2 linked regions of the Homo sapiens genome follow. The protein of the gene in region 2 interacts with the protein of the main gene of each other region in a pairwise test. Each region holds a gene or a part of one and is shown on either strand. Other genes may lie near its edges.

Region 1 (7,247 bases), on a different chromosome or scaffold from region 2:
ACAACCTACCTGTTCCTGGAATATCAGGTTAAGCCAAAGTCTACAACGGGAGGCAGCATAGCACAGAGATAAAGAGCAAGGCTCAAGCCATACTGCCAGAATCTACAGCTCCCACTACTTAAACTTTGGCAACTTAACCGCTCTGGACCTCAACTTTCCCATCTGTAAACTGCAGAGAATGCCTCTCTCCATCACCAGATTCTTACTAAACAATGGAGTAAAGTACTTAACAGTGCTCCATAAATGTCTGATGCAAGTATCATTGTACCTTAACATTCAGCTCTACGCTCTCATCACAGTCGCATTTCTTGTTTGTTGATGGAACTTATATATTGCATTACATAAGGGAGGTAAGGGTAGGCAAACTTTCTCCATAAAGGGCCAGACAGTAGTATTTTTTGGCCTTGCTGGCCAGATGGTGCCACTGATGCAGCTATTCAACTCTGCCATTGTAGCACAAAAGTGGTCAGAGATGACATGAAAACAAATGAGAATGGTAGTTCTTTCCAAAACTTTATTTAGAGAAACTAAAATTTCGTAATTTTCGTATTATACAAAATATTATTTTGAGCCATTAACAAAAGGGAATATAAAAACCATAGTTTGTAGGCCATACAAAAATAGGCAGCAGCCAGATTTGGCCCATGGGTGGTAGTTTGCTGACCCCTGCTCTAGATTAACAAATTTACGGGCTTTGGAAGCTTTGTGGGGCAAGGAGGCTTGATATACAGGTTGGTGGTGCAGAACAAAGAGGAAATTTCTAAGTATAATAGAAAAAAGATGTAATGCTGTCCTTCATGTATCAACGCTGGATTCAACTATGTGCAAAACATTTTATCATATGTCGCTGGAATCAAAGATGCAGAAGTCACAGTCTCTGGTCTCGAGGAGCATATACTTCTCCATGGTAGCTTAGAAATGGAAAGTCTTCCTTCAAAGTACAATACATCCTTCTCAGACTTTGACAATGCACCCGTGCGTGCTCATCTGTGAGGCAGGTAGTTTCTTTGGCAACTACAGCTGAGGCCAAACATGCATTATTATCTTGACCACCTGTGCTTCTTCCCCTCCCCAGTAATCATACCAGTTTTTCTCCTGGTCTCCAAATTATTCTGTTTTGCATTATCATTTTGGGGATAATACTTGGGATGATATACTAAAAGTCAACTGGTCACATCTTTTTAAAAATTACCATTTTAATTAGTCTTCAGAGATACCCTCTCTCTCTTAATAGGTAACATGCTTGTGACGCCTGTGTTTTTTTGTTTCAATCCAGGCAGAAACTTCTCCCTAGGAGGCAGGATAAATGGATCTATCTCAAGGCAACAAAGACACATCACAAAAACATTTTTTTCAGAGCAAATGTTAAATACTTGATCCAACAGAACACAAATAAAGATAAAATGTAATGCTCTATTATATACTTCAGTTGGTTATAAAGATTGCGGATTTGAAAAAAATCAGCAGAAATCCACTATGTCAATGTCAGAGCATATGAAGCATAGAATAAAAGTTAACACAGCTAATAATAAATTGTTTGTAAATACTAAGTAACTATTAATAAGAAACAATAATAGAATATACTAATATTGTTTTCATGGACATCCATCTCTTACGTGTTTCCTTGTAAAAAGTTGTACTATTTGTCTTTCAAAGACAACACAATAAAAGTCAGAGTAAAAAGCAGTACTCTCAATGTTTAGTATCATCTCATCAGCAAAATCCCAAATCAAATTGGAGGGGAGGACAGAGACTCAACAGAGGAATTAAAATGGGTTAAGACAGTAAAATCTATGGCTGAGCGCAGTGGCTCACGTCTGTAGGAGGTCAAGGTGGGCAAATCACTTGAGGTCAGGAGTTCAAGACCAGCCTGACCAACATGGTGAAACCCCGCCTCTACCAAAAATACAAAAATTAGGCGGGTGTGGTGGCACGCGCCTGTAATCTGAGCTACTCAGGAGGCTGAGGCAAGAGGATCACCTGAGCCCAGGAGGCGGAGGTTGCAGTGAGCCAAGATCGCACCACTGCACTCCATCCTGGCAGACGAGCAAAAACTCTGTCTCAAACAACAACAACAACAAAATAGGGTACTGAGAGCTTATAATGTTGAAGTTCTTAAAAAGAAATACAACATGAGCTTGTTGGTACTTGGCGAAAGTGAAAACAGGCAAAGAAATTAGCAGATAGAGCTAAAAAAACTGGAAACGTAATATTTCCTCGTCATCATCAGATTTTCCAATTGCAGTTTCAGCTATTCAGTATTCAGTAATACTTTACAGGTTATTGTACAGTGCTATCTGGGATGCACAAACATCTCAGCATACATCCCTCTTATCCTAAGAGTTAACTGTATAAACTTAAAGCACTTAGATTTCCTTATTTTACTATAATCTGTAACAGTTCATCTAGGAACACCACACTCTCATATGCCTTCTGTTATTTACACATTATTCTTTATGATACTGATTATATGACTACTGCTGAAAAGCAGAAATTCATTGGCTTAAGAAATCTACTGCCCTATGTAGAGAATTCCCACGCCAAGAAAAATGTCTACTTTCCTGCTTTTCACCCTATATGATATAGGTTTGGAAACCTTTGAGGAAATTCATCTGGTTATAAAATATAAATCTTTAGAATAAAGTAGCATCACAATTTTTATTAAAAGGTAAAAGGCAGGAAGCAAGCAATGTCAATGAAATTGTTCCCTGAAAGCTACAAGGAGAAAAATTCAATTCTGAAAATACATGGGTTTAGCCTCTAGATAAGAGTTTTACCTTATCAAGTCGAAATGCACATTTTAGTTTTTAGAATTAGTTAAGAATTACTCAATACTTAGCAGCCATTTACTATGTAAAATCAGAAAAACAAGTCTTTTATTGACTAACTTCACTAGTGGCCAATGAAGTTTTTTAATAACAAAAACGTAATATATGGTAGAAAGTATTGACTTTATTAACCTCACTTACGATACTGAATACAAAGTAAAATTAGGTGGTGACCCTTAATTTTCAGTCTATTTCAAAGCATGGTCCCTCAGATTTAAGAATTAAGGCATACATATGTCAAAAAAGGAAGGCGAATCAAACAACCAAATCCAAAAAGACCCCAGTGATTTATGTATTATGAAGTTTGAGCTACAGCCCTTATGATATTCCTTTTAGTACTTTCTTCTACGTTTTCATTAATTCCTTCAGTAACTGGATTTTTAACCAAACCCTATAATCCATCATAATTCTTCCAATTATGAGTTGAAAAGAAACATAGGCAGATATGTATACCAAGTACCTTACGAAATTCACCACATACATGGTGAACTTCACATATAAACTTTGAAAATCAAAAGGACTATGATATTCTTGAAATCCAAAGGCTAGATAAGATCTACCTTCCAATCATTTCTGCATTTTAAGATATGGTTTCATCTAGTGATGTTAATAAAGAAACACATTACATATTTAAACACCAGTAAGATATGACATTCAACAGAACAGCCAATAAGATTTTGCATTTTAAAACCAAAAAGAATATATCTTGAACACCTTAAATTATAAAATTCAGTTGTAAGCAGGAACTGTTACTATGTAACGAATACTGTTCATATCAAAAGTGCTGGTGACAAAGAATTCAGTATGCCTTCCTACAAAATCTGTTCACATACATGTATCTATCTCTATCACCTGTAATAAGATTTTAAATGTTTTAAGGTGCTTAAAGTTTGCACTACAGGACTAATTCAATGAGATTCATCTGCTACCTCTTCATAGCAACTTCAATTGGAATGATCCACACACAAAACTGTTGTTACTTTCTAAAATGTGGCATTTGTGGTGGTGGAGTGCCCTCTATTGGTAAGGAAGAGGACACACTCATTAGCTGTCCTGCATGCATTTTCTCGTTGATTCGGAGTTCACACCCATCCTGAAGCATTCGAACTGCTATTCGGGCGATATTCTTAGAGTCATCAAGACCACAGTGAGGCCGCCCATCATAATCCATTCCTAATTTTTCAAGCATTATTGTCAGTTTGGTTTGGCTTCTAGGAACCTGAAAAATAAACAGCTTAGTAAATAATTCTTTGGTGTTCTAAACTGTAATATAAGCCACAGTTAAGATGAAAAATAAGAAACTGAAAATTAGCACTAACAGCTAAATAAAGCTAGGCAAAGGGCAATACCCCCACTCAAATAAGGCAAATAAAAAATTCAGGCCAGGCAAGGTGGCTCACGCCTGTAATCTCAGCACTTTGGGAGGCCAAGGTGGGCAGATCACTTGAGGTCAGGAGTATGAGACCAGCCTGGCGAACATGGTGACACCCCATCTCTTCTTAAAATACAAAAAAATTAGCCAGGCGTGGTGGTGCACATCTGTAATGCCAGCTACCTGGGAGGCTGAGGCAGGAGAACTGCCTGAACCTGGGAGGTGGAGGCTGCAGCGAGCTGAGATCATGCCAATGCACTCCAGCCTGAACAACAGAGCGAGACTCCATCAAAAAAACCCTGAAATTTTCAGAGCTTTAAAATATGATCTTAAGAGTTTCAGCTGAAAATACAGACAGGATCCTCAGACATCTAAAAACTCTGCAGTTTTTTAATTTAAAAATAATTTATTAAAGGGAATGTATTGTTCAGGACATGTAAGTTGAAGATCTACCTTTTTATTTTTAAACCAAGTTAGTTATTTTACATGGTATTTTTCTATAGTGTATTACTTTACTTGACTGATTTCTTAGATAAAAAGACTAGCCTTTTTGGATGGCTAAAGATAATGAAGATTAAGAATGAAAGACGATGTGGTGTGGTATTTTTCAGGTTATTTAAAAACCTGTTCCTTGATAAGTTAAAAAAAAAAAAAAAAAAAAAAAACTCTCACACTCCCCAAATTCCAATATGTGCCTCCACTTTTAAGAATTATTGGCTGGGTGTGGTAGCTCACGCCTGTAATCCCAGCACTTTGGGAGGCCAAGGCAGGTGGATCACCTGAGGTCAGGAGTTCAAGACCAGCCTGGCCAACATGGTGAAACCCCATCTCTACTAAAAATATAAAAATTATCTGGCTATGGTGGCGTGCGCCTGTAATCCCAGCTACTCGGGAGGCTGAGGCAGAAGAATCCCTTGAACCCGGGAGGCAGAGGTTACAGTGAGCCAAGATCACTCCACTGCACTCCAGCCTGGGCGTCAGAGTGAGGTTCCATCTCAAAAAAAGAAAAAAAAAATTGTTATATTTTCTTCATATTTCTATCAAGATTTGTTAAGTTTTACATTCTGTAGTTTGTACAACTATTTTGCCTATGCATCTTGGACCTCAGCTTCTTCATCCGTAAAATGGGACTAACAGCTCTAATATTTACTCATAGGGTTACTGGGATAATCACAAAGCAAATGATGTAAAACACCTATAATTATCTTAAGCTGTAATACTGCAATATACCCTGTACCTTCCACTAATTATCACTTGGAAAACGCACTTCTAAAAATAGTTTGCCCAACACACTGGATAACTTAGGTAGAAGAGACAAATTCCTGGAAATACACAACTTAACAATAATTGAATTACAAAGAAACAGAAAATCGGAATAGACCTATACCTAGGAAGGAGACTGAATCAGTAACTGAAAACCTCTAACAAAGAAAAGCGCTGAACCAGATAGCTTTGCTGCTGAATTCAAGCAAATATTTAAAGAATTAGAACCAAGTCTCCTCAAACTACTACAAAAAAATTGAAGAAGAAATACTTCCCAACTCATTCCATTAAGGTCAGCATCACTTTGATACAAAAGCCTGACAAAGACCTCATGAGGAAAGAAAATTACAGATCAATATCCCCTACAATTATCATGTTGCAATAATCCTTGACAAAATATAAGCAAATTTAAATCAGCAGCATATTAAAACAATTATGTGCCATGACCAAGTAGGATTTTATCCTGAAATGCAAGGATGGCTCAACATTTAAAAAATAATGTTAACACAAGCATTAACAGAAGGAAGGAGTGCAGTAATTGAAAGAGAGTGGTATTAGTATAGACATACAAACTAATAAAACCGAAGAGAGTCTAGAAATAAACTTTCACAAATACATTGAATCAATGGGGAAAAAACAACAGCCTTTTCAACAAACGGTGTTGGGAAAACTGAATATCCACGTGCAAAAGAATGAAGTTGGACCCTTACCTTACACCATATAACAAAATTAACTTAAAATTGATCAAAGACCTAAATGTAAGACATTCAATTATAAAATTCTTAGAATAAAACATATGGAAAAGGCTTTATGACAATGGATTGGACAATGATTTCTTGGATGTCACCAAAACACAGGCAACAAAAGAAAAAATAAAGTAGACTTCATCAACATTAAAAACCTTATTACTAAAGACGTTATCAGTAGAGTGAAATGGCAACCCATGGAACAGAAGATACATTTGCAAGTATATATCTGATAATGAATTAATATCCAGAATAAAGAACTCCTACAACTCAAAACATCATGATACCTCATTTAGTAAATGAGGAAAGAATCTGAATAGACATTTCTCCAAACATGATATGCCAATGGCTAAAAATCACATGAAAAGATGCTCAACATCACTAATCATTAGGGAAATACAAATCAAAACCACAATGAGATACCACTTCACACCCATTAGAATGGCCATAAACACACACACACACACACACACACACACATACACACACACACCAGAAAATAACAAGCATTGACAGAGATGTGGAGAATGTAGTACTTTGTGCATTGCTGGCAGGAATGTAAAATGGTACAGCCACTGTGGGAAACAATGTGGAGATTCCTCAAAAAAATTAAACATAGAATTAGCACATGCTCCACCAACTCCTATTCTGGTTATACAGGAAGAAGAATGGTATCTGTACATCCATGTTCATAACAGCACTATTCATGATTGCCAAAACATGGAAGTAACTTAAATGTCCATCAAACAATCAATGGATTTTTTTTTTTTTAACGTGGTACAGGTTAAATATTCCTTATCTGAAATGCTTGGGACAGAAGTGCTTTGGATTTGAAATTTTTTGGATTTTGAAATATTCAACATTTACATTACACCACTTTTGCATCACTCATCCGAAAATCCAAAATTCCAAAACCTGAAATGCTCCAATGAGAATTTCTTTTGAGTACAATGTCAGTGCCCAGAAAGTTTCAGATTTTTGGAGCATTTCAGATATTGAATTTTTGGATTAGGTATACTCAGCCCGTAAATACATACA
Region 2 (3,394 bases):
CAAGGGTGAAGGCAGTGGGAGCAGGGCACCCTCAGACTGATGATTATCCTGCTGCAGGGTCTCTCCCAAGAGACAGGGAAGGCTGTCATGCCAGTGCTGATGAATAAGCATCAGACCAAATGTGACATGTGACACCTATTAAAGAAGGCCCCCGGCCACACGCAGTGGCTCAAACCTGTAATCCCAGCACGTTGGGAGGCCGAGGCAGGCAGATCACTTGAGGTCGGGAGATCGAGACCAGCCTGACCAGCATGGAGAAATCCTGTCTCTACTAAAAATACAAAATTAGCTGCGTGTGGTGGCACATACCTGTAATTTCAGCTACTTGGGAGGCTGAGGCAGAAGAATCGCTTGAACCCGGGAGACAGAGGTTGTAGTGGGCCATGATTGCACCATTGCACTCCAGCCTGGGCAACAAGAGCGAAACTCTCAAAAAATAAAATTAAAAAAATAAAGAAGGCCCTTTACCCAGCGCCACTCACTGAGTGCCACTTGCTTCAGACACAAGAAAGGCAGACACAATTCTGACCCTCCAAACATGTCAGCTCTCACGGCAGCTGGCCCACCTGGCAACAGCCCCAGTCAGTGAAAGAGGGTTCTTTCCTTTTTATTTTTGCAATATCCCATACAAAAGCAATAGAAACGTAACAGTCTTAACAAGAAGTTTACAATTGAATATTTGAACAGAAAATCTGTACACATTATCATTTACAGCAATTTTACATGGTAAATTAACTGATTGTTTTAAAATGTTCTTTCTAAATCGCTCCACTCTGCTGCCCTAACTCTTGGAGTATTCTAAAGAGTCTAACTAGTGCTATTTACAAGTACCAAATTAAGACCATATAACTTACATAAAACTCATTAGTTTAATAGCTCAATTTAACAATGTCTGACTTCAGAATGCTGTTATGACATATTGATAAAAGGCCAAAAATTAAGTTTCCATAAAGATATTAAAGGTGTCTGAGAATACTTTGATGCCTATAAAAGTAGCTGACTCTCAATTGGTCCCATGGATTACATGGTTAAATCCAAAACAGTCCACCTGACAAGCAATAACTGAAGATGCCTGTGGAAAACCAGTTATGTAGACGTGTCAGCTTACCCTGGAGGACAACAGGGATTACGCAATTAAGCTCGCTGGAAGAGAGCTTCAAGTACTTTCTTGGACTTAGCTCCATTTACAATTTAAAACATGCAAAATATACTCACTATACATAAAATTAATGTTTCTTAAGAAAGTAAGGCAAAAATAATTCAGCATGAGCTAATGGACTGCTAACAGAGAAACCACCAGGTACAAGTGCACACACATGCTTGGTGCCTGGCCAGCCTTCCACCTAGTCGGGGAGGAGCTGTTTCTCTTCCTGGCCGCCAGGGGGCAGTTAGCTCATGGCTGAGAAGTCTCTCAAGGGTTCAGTTAAACAAGCTTCCAAATCAAACTCATCCTCCACTTGACTGTCCATGTGTCTCACCTTGGTGGGTGTGCCAGAGTACACATCCTGGAAAACAGAAGCATGGCTCGGTTGACATTCATCTCACCCTGAAAACAGGGGCCCCTTCCTACACCCCACTCCTTATGTGGTAAATCATGTGATGTAATGCACAGCAAGGTGTACACTTCACGTGCAACTGAGACAGATTTTAATAATAACACTGCAAAGAGAAACCACATGTACCATTTACAAGACACTGACGTTTAGATGTGCACACATCCCATTGTGCTGGGATTACAGGAAGGAGTCACTAGTCACTGTGCCTGGCCATGTACATAGTTTATAAGCACAGAAAGAATTGTAAAAGCCTAGACAAAACCACAAATAGTGGCTGTCTCAGGACAGGAGACAGTATTTAAACTGATACATTTAAAAACGGTTTTCTTTTCTCTTGAGACAGAGTCTCACTCTGTCACACAGGGTGGAGGGCAGTGGTACAATTTCGGCTCATTGCCACCTCTGCCTCCCGGGTTCAAGTGATTCTCCTGCCTCAGCCTCCTGAGTAGCTGGGATTACATGCCTGCATGACCACACCCAGCTAGTTTTTGTATTTTTAGTAGAGACTGGGTTTCACTATGTTGGGCAGGCTGGTCTTGAACTCCTGACTTCAGGTGATCTGCCTGCCTCAGCCTCCCAAAGTGCTGGGATCACAGGCGTGAGCCACCACGCGCAGCACATGGTTTTCTTTCTTTTTTTTTTTTTGAGACAGAGTCTTGCTCTGTTGCCCAGGCTGGAGTGCAATGGCGCCATCTCAGCTCACTGCAACCTCCACCTCCTGGGTTCAAGCTATTCTCCCACCTCAGCCTCCTGAGTAGCACGGACTACAGGCACCCACCATCATACCTGGCTATTATTTGTATTTTTGTAGAAACAGGGTTTCACCATGTTGGCCAGGCTAGTCTTGAATTCCTGACTTCAGGTGATCCGCCTGCCTTGGCCTCCCAAGGTGCTGGGATTACAGGCGTGAGCCACCGTGCCCAGTCCAAACTTCAGTTTATAAGGCAGCATGTGTTATTAACAATTCACCTGCAACCCCCAAGCTGAAAGACTTATCCAAAGTACTTACAAAGTCATCCTGAGAGCTGGTCTGGGGCTCGGAGCTGCTTTCTGCAGATTCAAGGTCTACAGGGTGTCTGTTAAACAAGATCCAACATGTGCGTCAGGCACTAACTTAACAAAGCCAGGAGACGGGGCGCTACAGACAAACCCCATCCATATGGTACAGCCACAACACTGACAGTGTGCCCGAGGCTCCCTGAGGGGTCAGCTTTCAGTGACTATTTGACAGACTTAATCCCAGCCCAATCAATCCAGCAAAGAGAAAGCGGATGGCAATGAGAAGCAACAAAAAGATCTGCTGGGCTCACCACACAAGCATCCTTGGAAACAGAAACACTCATAAGCCCAATTTTTGAGGGGGAGAAATGAGCACTGTGATGAACATACTATGCATTATCACTAATTTTTCCAAGTTTCTACTCAGAGAATGGGACAATGGTGTCACACTGGGGGAAAAAACCCAAATGACATCTGTCAGGACAAACTGGTAAAGCCACTTACAATCGTTTCAAACATGCCAGTCTCTAAAAAATTTCCCAGCACAGAGGAGAAACTCTAATTGTTTGTTTAAAGAATGTGTCTGAGGAAGCGAGAGGCTCAGGACCAGAGGGGAGCTGAGAAGAAACCCCACATAGAGGGAGGGAGGTACACGATCATTCTCTCTACCTTCCTGGTCAGCAGGTATTGCCATGATGCAGCAAAAGTTCAGGCCTGAGACATTTCAACTAGGCACAAGTTTAAAGGCCAACGGGGCTGGGAGCAGTGGCTCACCCCTGTAATCCCAGCACTTTGGGAGGCTGAGGCGGGTAGATCACAAGGTCAGGAATTACATGGTG

Evidence for each region.
Region 1: the proteins of SLBP (region 2) and ERI1 interact in a two-hybrid assay, tested with the Homo sapiens proteins (one study listed by BioGRID).

The regions. Positions count from the first base shown.
Region 1 is NC_000008.11:9,026,592-9,033,838, reverse strand, and holds the end of ERI1 (3'-5' exoribonuclease 1), read right to left. Parts: intron 4,048-7,247; coding exon 3,805-4,047; 3' UTR 1,291-3,804; coding exon of another isoform or gene 1,228-1,290; 3' UTR 501-1,227; downstream 1-500. UniProt on the Homo sapiens protein: RNA exonuclease that binds to the 3'-end of histone mRNAs and degrades them, suggesting that it plays an essential role in histone mRNA decay after replication.
Region 2 is NC_000004.12:1,692,209-1,695,602, forward strand, and holds the end of SLBP (histone RNA hairpin-binding protein), read right to left. Parts: intron 2,633-3,394; coding exon 2,566-2,632; intron 1,506-2,565; coding exon 1,389-1,505; 3' UTR 523-1,388; downstream 1-522. UniProt on the Homo sapiens protein: RNA-binding protein involved in the histone pre-mRNA processing.